Homo sapiens: one gene and its partner. The protein of the gene in region 1 purifies or fractionates together with the protein of each later gene. This does not show direct contact. Each region holds a gene or a part of one and is shown on either strand. Other genes may lie near its edges.

Region 1 (5,004 bases):
AAATGGCCACAGGTCTAGAGCCTGATGGCCCTTCTCTACCCACCCCTACCCAGGCATACAGCAAGAGGCTGTTACGGCACCATGGGGAGACTGTCCTGCCCAGCCTGGACCTCAGCCCCCAGCAGATCTTCTTTCGAAGCTATGCCCAGGTAGGCAGCGGCCACCTCCCGCCACAGCTTGCTTTATGTCAGTTGAACGCCTTATTACTGAAGCTCATGGAAGTCCCCTCTTCAGACACTCCGTCAAATACCCCAAACCCTCTTCTGCAGATGTCCTCACTGTTATCTTTTCTCTTCCCTCCCTACCCCTTGGAATCACCCCTCAGATGACTACAGGTTCTTCTACCTAGTTCAGCACCCCCACAACTCAAAAGGTAGAAAAAACTCTATTCCCAAGTTCCTCCAGGAGAGGAGGAGACCAACTTTTTTTTCCTCTCATACCCCCAAAATACAGATGCCTTAAAAATGAGCCTGTGGTTGGGCACAGTGGCTCACACCTGTAATCCTGGCACTCTAGGAGGCCGAGGTGGGCGGATCACTTGAGATCAGGAGTTTAAGACCAGCCTGGCCAATATGGTGAAACCCCGTCTCTACTAAAAATACAAAACTTAGCTGGGCTTGGTGGCGGGCGCCTGTAATCCCAGCTACTTGAGAGGCTGAGGCACGAGAATCGCTTGAACCTGGGAGGCGGAGGTTGCAGTGAGCCAAGATCATGCCACTGCACTCCAGGCTGGGTGGTAGAGCAAGACTCAGTCTCACAAAAAAAAAAAAAAAGCCTGCGACAGGCTGACTGTGTGCCACATTCCTCTTCAGACACCTGACCTTAGGTGTGGCGCCCACTTGACATCACCTCCTTAAGCACCCTGTACTCCCTCAACAGACTCAGGTGCCAGGTCTTCAACACGCTTAGATTAGACTTCACCCCAGAGCTCCTGCGCTAGACCCTGCCTCTCTGTCATTGATAAATGGTATCATTACACAGCCCAGGCCCTCCTCCTGGACTCCTATTGCCAGATTAAATGAACTATACATTTCAAATGCTCCATGTGGCCCTTGGGGCACTTGATCCCCTGGTTCCCCTCTTTGTCTGCTGTCCCTGATCACCCCTTGTCACCGGGTCAGCTTTGTCCTGTGGACCCTCCCCCTTCAATGACCTCTCTTCCTGCTCAGGTGATGTGTAGGAAGCCCAGCCCCCAGGACTCTCACGACACTCACAGCCCTCCACACCTCCGAGTCCACGGGCCCCTCAGCAGCACCCCAGCCTTTGCCAGGTATTTCCGCTGTGCACGTGGTGCTCTCTTGAACCCCTCCAGCCGCTGCCAGCTCTGGTAACTTGGTTACCAAAGATGCCACAGCACAGAAATATCGACCAACACCTCCCTGGTCACATCCATGGAATCAGAGCAAGATTTCCTTTCTGCTTCTGTTCCAAAAATAAAAGCTGGCACTTGGCTTCCGCTTGTCTCTTAATGACTTGTTCCTGCTATGTTCTATGCCTGGAAGTCATTAACTGTACGGGAGAAAAATACCCTGAAGTTAGAAAAGATAAGAGGGAGAAATGCCAAAAATGTTTCATGGACACAAGAAAAGGAAAGAATCAACAATTGGTGACCTGGTGGGTTTGAAGGCCACCCAGTGGACCAAAGATTGGACAATAAAGCAGTCTAGTTGGAGACGAGAAGGGCTTGGATTAAGTATCGGAAAGCTGCTCCCAATTGTTCTCAGGATTTTATCGTTATTTTATTGTCATTGCCTCCTGCCTCTAATCTGCTGTCCTGAACAAAACCAGGAGAGGTGTGGGAGAGAAGGATGTGGGTCTGCTGTCTCTGGCCCTGGGAGATGAAACTCCGAACCTGGAGAGGCAGTCAGTTAGCACTGATGGCAACTGGTATCTCTGCTGCTGAACCTTGAGATACAGTGATGGTGATCAGAGGCAGAGAGCCATGCCTGCATCTCCTTTGGGAGTTGTGACCTGGAGCCCAGGAGGGAGGGAGGGTCAGTGAGTGAGCATGAAGCAGAGTTGGATATTTGGGAATGTCCGCCTCAATGGCCCTCCTGAGAAAACCATGACACTGGCCAGACTAAAGCAGAAGCTGAGGTGGAAAGAGTGCTTGTGAACAGCTGCCGTCTTGGACGACTGGTCTTCTTCCTGCTGGGCCATGTCCACCACCTGCCACATCTCACCCACTGAGGAGGCCACAAAGTGCTCTTCGAACTGTTCTTGATTCTGGTCTGGAACAGGGGAAAAGGACAAGGACTGAGCCCTGACCCTGGCCTGAACCAGAAAGGAGAAGTTAGAATAGGAAAAACACGTTGAAGCCTAGGGCTGCAGTCCCAATTGCCCATATCCTTAGCCTTCACCAGAGAGGGGATGCTCTTTCTAGAGGTTTTTTCTGGTCTGTGTTCAATCACAGCCCCAACTCAAACACACACACACACACACACACACACACACACACACACACACACACACACACCATTCCTAAGGTTAGCTGCCTCCTCTAGGGTTTCAACACTGGGGGAGTCAGGGGCCACCTTGAAGCATGACAAAAGCCAGCCAAATGCACCATGCTTACACACACAGAAGTTGCATGCAAGCTCAGCTGGCCCATGGTGAGCCGACACTATTATTTCACATGATAACCATCAGTGGCTGGAGTTACCCCCCATAAACCAGACCTATGTCAGGTCTCACCCTAGCCTCATCAGTGACCTGGGGCCTGGCCTCACACAGACCTCACCCTGAGCCTCCAGACTCTCCCGTCTTTTTTTCTACCTACCTGAAGAGGGTGTTTTCTCTGTATGGCTCCTGTCTTTTTTTCCACCTACCTGCAGAGGGCGTTTTCTCTGTCTGGCTCCCATCTTTGGGGCCTGGGCTCCCGTTCAGAGGCTTCACCTGCAGCAGCAGCAAGATAGGAACCAGGAACACTGCCCTGCAGAGCTGGGGGGCCAGGGGAGGCATGGACCTGCCCACCCACTGCCTTTGGCCGCCCCCTGCTCCCAGTGCCCAGCAGGATCCGTGCACCTCCTGCCCCATTCCTGTCCTGGCCCTTAACCCTTTCCAGGGGCATTTTCTCCCCTCACCTTCCATAGGACCTCTGACTTCACATGTTCTGTGACATCACAGCCATGGGCCTGAACTTCATTCCGGCTCACTAGAGCGTTCCAATGGCGAGGCACAAGAATGGAGCACAGCCAGCAGGGATGGCCGAGGCTTCCAAGATGACCACAGTGGGTCATTCTGTATTTAGCAGAAATGACTTAACAGCTTGCAATGTACATTCATATCCATTACACCATTAGATCCACGTAGAAACCAGGACTGCAAAATCATAGTGTTCTCATATCTATTACATTCATGAGGAAACTGAGGCTCACAGAAAAAATGACTCTCTCACTCAAAATCGCCCAAATACTAAGGGGCAGAAAAGGACTCTTGATTAACTTTTACTTTTAAATATGATATCTTCCCACTATTCTATGTGGCCTTTCTGTAACAAGAGTGGTTTGCATAGGATGAGGCCCAGAACAGATGAGCCGGACAGGATTCTCAAGTCGTGGGTATGAACATGCTGCTCTACATGAAGCATGGGTCTGCCAGAAAATAAAGATGGGGAGGAGCATAGGGTAAGGATGGGTAAAAGCACATGCTGTGTGTGTGTATAAAAGACACAGAGACAGAGACAGGCATAGACAGGCAGAGACAGACAGAGACATAGAAAAAGAGAGAAAGAAAGAGACCGAGACAGGCAGAAACTGAGGGGTAGAGACAGAGAGATAGAGACGCAGAGACAGAGAGACAGATGAAGAGAGAGTGAACGGAGAGAGAGCGAGAGACAAAGAGCAGGGTGCCTTGCAGCTGGTAGAGCCCATTCACACCCTCTCTTCACCCTCCCCTGGTTTTCCCACTTTTCTAGCCTTTGTCCTCTTGTACCACCAGGTTGAAACACCCTCTTCTTTCATTTTACACCTTTCTGTACTCTTAGACGAAAGAAAAGGTTGTTAGAGGCTCATCTCCAACCTCATTGCTTGGCAAAAGGAGTTAGAGTCTGCAGAGAAGCCGCAGTGCGGCAGGGAGTCTAGGATCCCAAATAACAGATCTGGGAGAATCCTGCCTCAGTACTTGGATGCGCCTCCTGCCCATGAGCCTGGTGAGCACAGATCTGTTGGCAGTAACCGGCTGTGGGTAATCACCCCCAACTGCTTCTTGGGCAGAGATGGTTGGAGGGTTGTGAGTTAGGGAGACAGAATGAAGGCCTTTTTTCGAAAACCAGCAACAGAGACATAGGCCATTAGATGCAGGATGGCTGCTAAGACAGGTAAGAGAAGACTTTAGTCACTCCTGAACTCTCATAACCAGTTCACACTGCTCCTGCTCATCCATGCATACCAGACCTGAATGAAATACCACATGCAGGTCCAAGGACACTGCGGAGACAGGCACCCTTTCTGCAAGAGGGAACTGCAGACAGAAACACACAAAGAGATGCTTTCCCACAGAGTTTACTCGTGTTAGCAGACATGCCCACATGGATGCTGTCTCACATACAGCAGACACCATCTCTTACACACTTCCTGATGGTCCAAGCCAGATGACAAGGGACTAGGGAGTGGTACGGAGGTCGCTTGAAGGTGAGTAAGGAAAGATTCAAGTAGGCAGGTGACCCTGCTCACCCCACCTTGAACCCATTGACGTGAGATCCAAAGAATGATGCTTGAATGGAAAAAACCATCACTAATCTCCTCCCTCCTGGCTATTTTGGGGGAGCAGCCTCTTGGTTTCCTGGCAAAAAGAGAAGCCATCTCCAGCTCTGTGGGAATGAATGGGGAGGGCGGCTGGGGTGAGAATTGCCTCCCGGGCAGGCTTGAGTGGAAATAACTGAGTTGTTTCCATTACTTCCATTTCCTTGCCACCACCACCCGCCTGACCTCCGCAGTGTTAAAAGAGATAAATTCTTGCAGAAAACAGGGAATCCCTTAAATATTTTTTCTTATTACAAAGTAG
Region 2 (5,476 bases), about 140 Mb from region 1:
TAAAAATAAATAAATAAATAATTTAAAAAAGTAAATAGTTATCCAGGCTCTAACTTGTCAAGTCCCCTCTGCCCTACCTACACCCCACCCTGCCCCAATCACCATCAGCTCTCACCTGCGTTATTGCAACAGGCTCCAAACCAGTCTCCCTGCTTCTGCTCTCAGGCCCACACAATCCATTTTCAACCCCAAAGCCACGGTTATTCTATTAAAAGTTGGATCAGTGGCTTCCTATCTCGAGTCCTTCTGATGGCCCGTGACCAGGACTCCACTGATCTCCTCTTCTATCACAGTCCCCCTCGGCGACCCTCTCCAGCCTCAACAGTCTCCTTGCCGTTCATCCACCGCACCCAGCAGGCTCCTGCTGCTGGGCCTCTGCACCACCATCCCTCAGCTGGGGAATCCCAGGGCAGTCCCACGCTTCCTTCAGATCTCTGCTTGACGCTCACCTCCTCAGCAAGCCTTCCCTAACCACCCTGAGAAAGTAGATCCCAGTCTCTACCCTGCACTCCCCATACCCTGGTTTTCTTCATAGCAGCATTTATCCCATCCCTACCTCAAATCTTTTATTTATTATTTTTAGAGTAGTGTCTCACTGTGTCACCCAGGCTGGAGTGCAGTGGTGCAATCGCAGAATCCCTGAACTGCTGGGCTCAAGCCATCCTCCTGCCTCAGCCTCCCAAAATGTCAGGATTACAGGCGTGAGCCACCATGCCTGGCCTCAAATAGCTCATATACACCAGTTAATCCACTCACTGTCTTCCTGCACTGACTTAAAAGGGAGGTCCTCGTCCTGCCTCACAGCGGGTATTCTCAAGGCTTACAGTAGCATCTGGCACTCAGTACTTGCTCAAGAAAGAGGTGATGTTCTAACAAAAACCAGACAAACTCTGATTGCCTAATTTCTGAAACTTGGGGACAGGTGAAGGATGATGTATAATACTGCTCTCTCTACTGGTCGGTATGTTTTAAAACCCCCTTGGAAAACGACGAAAGAAAGCGCTCGGCCGGGCGTGGCGGCTCAGGCCTGTAATCATAATTGCTTGAACTCAGGAAACAGAGGCTGCAATGAGATCATATCACTGCACTCCAGCCTGAGTGACAGAGTGAGACTCTGCCTGAAAGGAAAAAAAAAAAAAGTGCTCAGAATCTCTGATAAATGACCACAACGACGAGACAGCATACAGAGAACAATGACAATAACCAAGAGGAAATCAGAGCAAGGAAACCCTCCCTGTTAACAGGGCCTGTGCACAGAGGCAGGCGAGGGCCGCCATTCCATCAGAGCAGAAAGCCCATCTGAGACTGTTCCCATTTGGGTCAATTCAATGCCACACATACATATCCATGAAAGAGTGAAATCATTCCGTGAGGTGAAGTTTATTAAGAAACTCAACAGTCTCTGTCCCTGCTTCCCTTTCTCACCTCCGCCCTTCTCCATGATTCTTTTTTTTTTTTTTTCTTTGAGACAGGATCTTGCTCTGTCACCCAGGCTAGAGTGGAGTGTGATGGCTCGATCTCAGCTCACTAAAATCTCCACCTCCTGGGCTCAAGTGAAGTGATCCTCCCACCTCAGCCTCCCAAGGAGCTGAGACAGACACAGGCCACCATGTCTGGCTAATTTTTGTATTTTCAGTAGAGACAGGGTTTCGCCATGTTGCCCAGGCTGGTCTTGAACTCCTGGACTCAAGCAATCCTCCTGCCTCGGCCTCCTGAAGTGCTGGGATTACAGGTGCGAACCACCACGCCCTACCCGCTCCATAATTCTTTTTAGCTAATTCTTTTAATGTCTGCCTTCAGAGTGAACCTTGGTTGTTCAGCTTGGGGCATTAGCGACTGACTTCCCAAGGCGACAGGCGAAAATGCAGCGCTCTCCTCCCCACACCTTCTCTGCCCAGGTGCATCATAATTTCAATTAGAGCAGCAGTCAGTGTTTACATAAATTACTATCATTGCGGCGAGGCTATCCACAGCTGCGCCTTGTAGTACACCATAATTATTTTTCGTTTCCCGCACGATGGTTTATTTTCCCTGGAACTAATAACAGCCTTGTGTTTTCATTTGCTTTGTTTAGTACTTATCACTAATCCCGCCCCAACTCTGCCAACTGTATCAACTCCTCTCCAGATGCTGCAGCATGTCAGGTGTCCTGCTAATTTCATCTTCTCCCAAAGAATCTCCTCTTGGAGCCTCTGACCAGCTGGGGTCAGGACATGTCTGCTCTTCACACCAGCACCTGGCTGGGATTTCCCTTCAGCAGGTTCTTCTCACCTCTCACCTGGGGGAAATCCTGTTCCCACCAGCCAGTCTCTCTCAGTCTAGACTTACTGCCTCATCTGGGGAGACTACATCTGCCAATCACCTCCTTAAAGCATGAGGAACAAATCTGGGAGCAAGTCTGAAGTTGTCTTTACCCTACCCTCCCTTGCCTGAGTGTAGACTTCCAGGCTGCAAATGCATCCTTCAGAATTTCTCAAGCAAGGCCCTCCCGTCTCCTGCCACCCAGTGCTGCTTTGAAAAAGCCCAAGCCCTTCTGCTTCTTTTCATTTTAATTGTAGTTAGTTCTTCTGCCTTTTTCCACATGTTCTAACCTTCTGCCTCTTGACCTGTGATGACCTATTTGTGATTTGTTTTTACTTTCTCCTCTTGTTCTGAGATTTCACAACAGTATGTCCTGGAGAGGGTACGCAAGGATCTTTTTTTTTTTTTTTTTTTTTTTTTTTTGAGACGGAGTCTCACCCTTGTTGCCCGGGCTGGAGTGCAATGGCATGATCTCCACTTACCGTTACCTCCGCCTCCCAGGTTCAAGCAATTCTCCTGTCTCAGCCTCCTGGGCAGCTGGGATTACAGGCACCTGCCACCATACCTGGCTAATTTTTGTATTAGCCAGGGTTTCACTATGTTGGCCAGGCTGGTCTCAAACTCCTGGCCTCAAGTGATCCGTCCACCTCGGCCACCCAAAGTGCTGGGATTACAGGCGTGAGCCACAGCGCCTGGCCTCTGAACTCTCACTATCCAAATTCTGGGGTCAACAGCTGCAGACATGCTTTCAAATAAATCCTTCCCCTCCCAAGCTCTCACTAGTCTTTATCTGAAACTCAGCCTCTCTCACTATCCAAGTTTGCTGCCCAGACTTTTAATTTTTTAAATTTTATTTTTGAGACGGAGTCTCATTCTATTGCCCAGGCTGGAGTGCAGTGGCACGATCTGGGCTCACAGCAACCCCCGCCTCCTGGGTTCAAGCAATTCTCCTGCCTCAGCCTCCTGAGTATGGGATTACAGGCACCCACCACCATGCTTGGCTAATTTTTGTATTTTTAGTAGAGATGGGGTTTCATCATGATGGCCAGGCTGGTCTCGAACTCCTGACCTCAGTGATTCACCTACCTCCTAAATTGCTGGGATTACAGGCATGAGCCACCACACCCAGCCTTCCCAAGCTTTTAATATCCAAGCTGAGAAGTGAAGAGGCTATGAAAGTGAAGGATACCTGCATTTTCACCCGTGGTACTGGCCACTGGGTGAGCCTCTTTAACCCAGAAAGTTTGGGTTCTAGGAAATTATTTTGTGAATTTCATCCTGTTTTCCCTATTTTTTTCTTCTGGAAACTTTTTAAAATGTATTTTATTTTATTTTTTAGAGATGGGGTCTTGCTCTGTCACCCAGGCTGGATGGCAGTGGCATGATCACAGCTCACTGCAGCCTCAAACTCCTGGGCTCAAGTGATCCTCCCACCTCAGCCTCCCAAGTAGCTGGGACTACAGGTGCACACCACCACACCTGGCTAATTTTTAAATTTTGTTGTAGAGATGGGGGTCTTGCTATGTTGCCCAGGCTGGTCTTGAACTCCTGGCCTCAAACGATCCTCTCACCTCAGCTTTGAAGCTCTTACTATTCAGCTGCTGACTTCCTGATCTGATCCTTTCCGTTTCTTTTTTCTCTCATTTGCCACCTCGTTGCTTTTCTGTTCTACTTTCTGAGGGAGTTCCTCAACTTTATCTTTCACCCACTAACTGATTTTCTTATTTCTGCTTTTATTTTTTTTTTTTACATCCGAGAGTTCTCTTTTTGGATATTCGAATACTCCTTTTGGTGGCTTTTTTTTAGAGCTTCCTGTTCTTGCCTCATGTTCGCGATATTTTCGCTCACCTCCGCGTGGACATTAATGACAGCCTGCTTTCTAAGGCTCCTTCCTGCACGCTCTCTGGTTTCCCAGTGTGTATTCTGGTCTCAATCTCCTGTAGCAGAGGTTTTCTTCAGATGCCCTTGGTTATCTGCTCATATTTAAGGGATGGGGATTTTTAAAGCTTGATGCCTTGAACACTGGGAGGGGGTTATTAATGACGGGCTTCGTTAGCAAGGGATCCAGCTGGGTCTGCTGACTGGGGACCTCCTGATGTCATTAATTTTAGGTCTTTTCTCTTGGGCTACTCAGATTCCCCAAAGACACATCCATCCTCCTGTCTACAGGGAAAAGCCCCAGCTGGTCATGTTCTGGGAGCCAAAGGGTCCCTGTTCGCTTCCTCCTCCTGTGCCCTGTTCAGCACTGCGCCCCCACCCCATACTCAACCGCGCCCCCACCCCGTACTCAACTGTGCCCCCACCCCGTACTCAACTGTGCCCCCACCCCGTACTCAACTGTGCCCCCACCCCATACTCAACTGTTCCCCCACCCCGTACTCAACTGTGCCCCCACCCCATACTCAACTGTGCCCCCACCCCGTACTCAACTGTACCTGTCTCCCATTCTTCTCTGAAATATCTTTAAAGTTTCTAAACAGTTACAGAAACCACCACCTTAACAGCAGGAAGTAATAAGTTGGAGAGTCAATTATCTCCAGGCACATCTGTGGGCCAGGGCTGGAGAACCACAGTCCCGCCTGCAGCCACAGACCCACTAAGCAAGTGTGAAACTAACAGCTACTCTCCGAAAAGAAAGACAACTTAAGAATCGAAACTCAAGATGTACGGTTTTTTTAAATGACAAACAAGCCGCATGTGTTTCAGTATCATCAATAACCCGTCTTTTCCCACTGATGGCTCCTTCAGCCCCTGACCCACACTAGAAGAGAATCACCTGCCAGCCTCAATGACTGTGCGTAGTCAAGGAACTGCACGCCCAAGGTCAGCCAACCAACGGGCCTCTCTTCAGCTCTGGATCCCTTCCCACTGGGGTTCCTGGGGATTCCCTCCTTGTACAGGCTGTCTCTTCTCCACCAGGTCACATCTCCTCCAGGATGGCCACCAATACCGCCAACTCTGCAGGTCTAAAACCCACGTGTGTTTGTGTGGCCCTTCCTCTCCCACCTGGCCGCAGCGCTCCTCATCGCAGGTGAGAAGTCCCGGCTGCCCTCGCTGTTACAGGTCGCCACATCTCACAAAGCGCCACCGCCCAGTGGATTTGGCAACATCTTTCAGCTCCATGCCCGCCCCCACTCTCTCACTGCCCCAGACCCACGCCCCACAAGGCTACTCA

The links.
Region 2: the proteins of LLCFC1 (region 1) and CHST12 purify together in Homo sapiens (affinity purification with mass spectrometry; one large-scale study listed by BioGRID and IntAct). This does not show direct contact.

What each region holds. Positions count from the first base shown.
Region 1 is NC_000007.14:142,937,579-142,942,582, reverse strand, and holds LLCFC1 (sperm-egg fusion protein LLCFC1 precursor), read right to left. Parts: upstream 3,100-5,004; 5' UTR 2,962-3,099; coding exon 2,829-2,961; intron 2,232-2,828; coding exon 1,996-2,231; 3' UTR 1,715-1,995; downstream 1-1,714. Other genes in the region: KEL (kell blood group glycoprotein), read left to right, coding at 54-149, 1,170-1,331. UniProt on the Homo sapiens protein: Sperm protein required for fusion of sperm with the egg membrane during fertilization.
Region 2 is NC_000007.14:2,405,611-2,411,086, reverse strand, and holds part of CHST12 (carbohydrate sulfotransferase 12), read right to left. Parts: intron 1-5,476. UniProt on the Homo sapiens protein: Catalyzes the transfer of sulfate to position 4 of the N-acetylgalactosamine (GalNAc) residue of chondroitin and desulfated dermatan sulfate.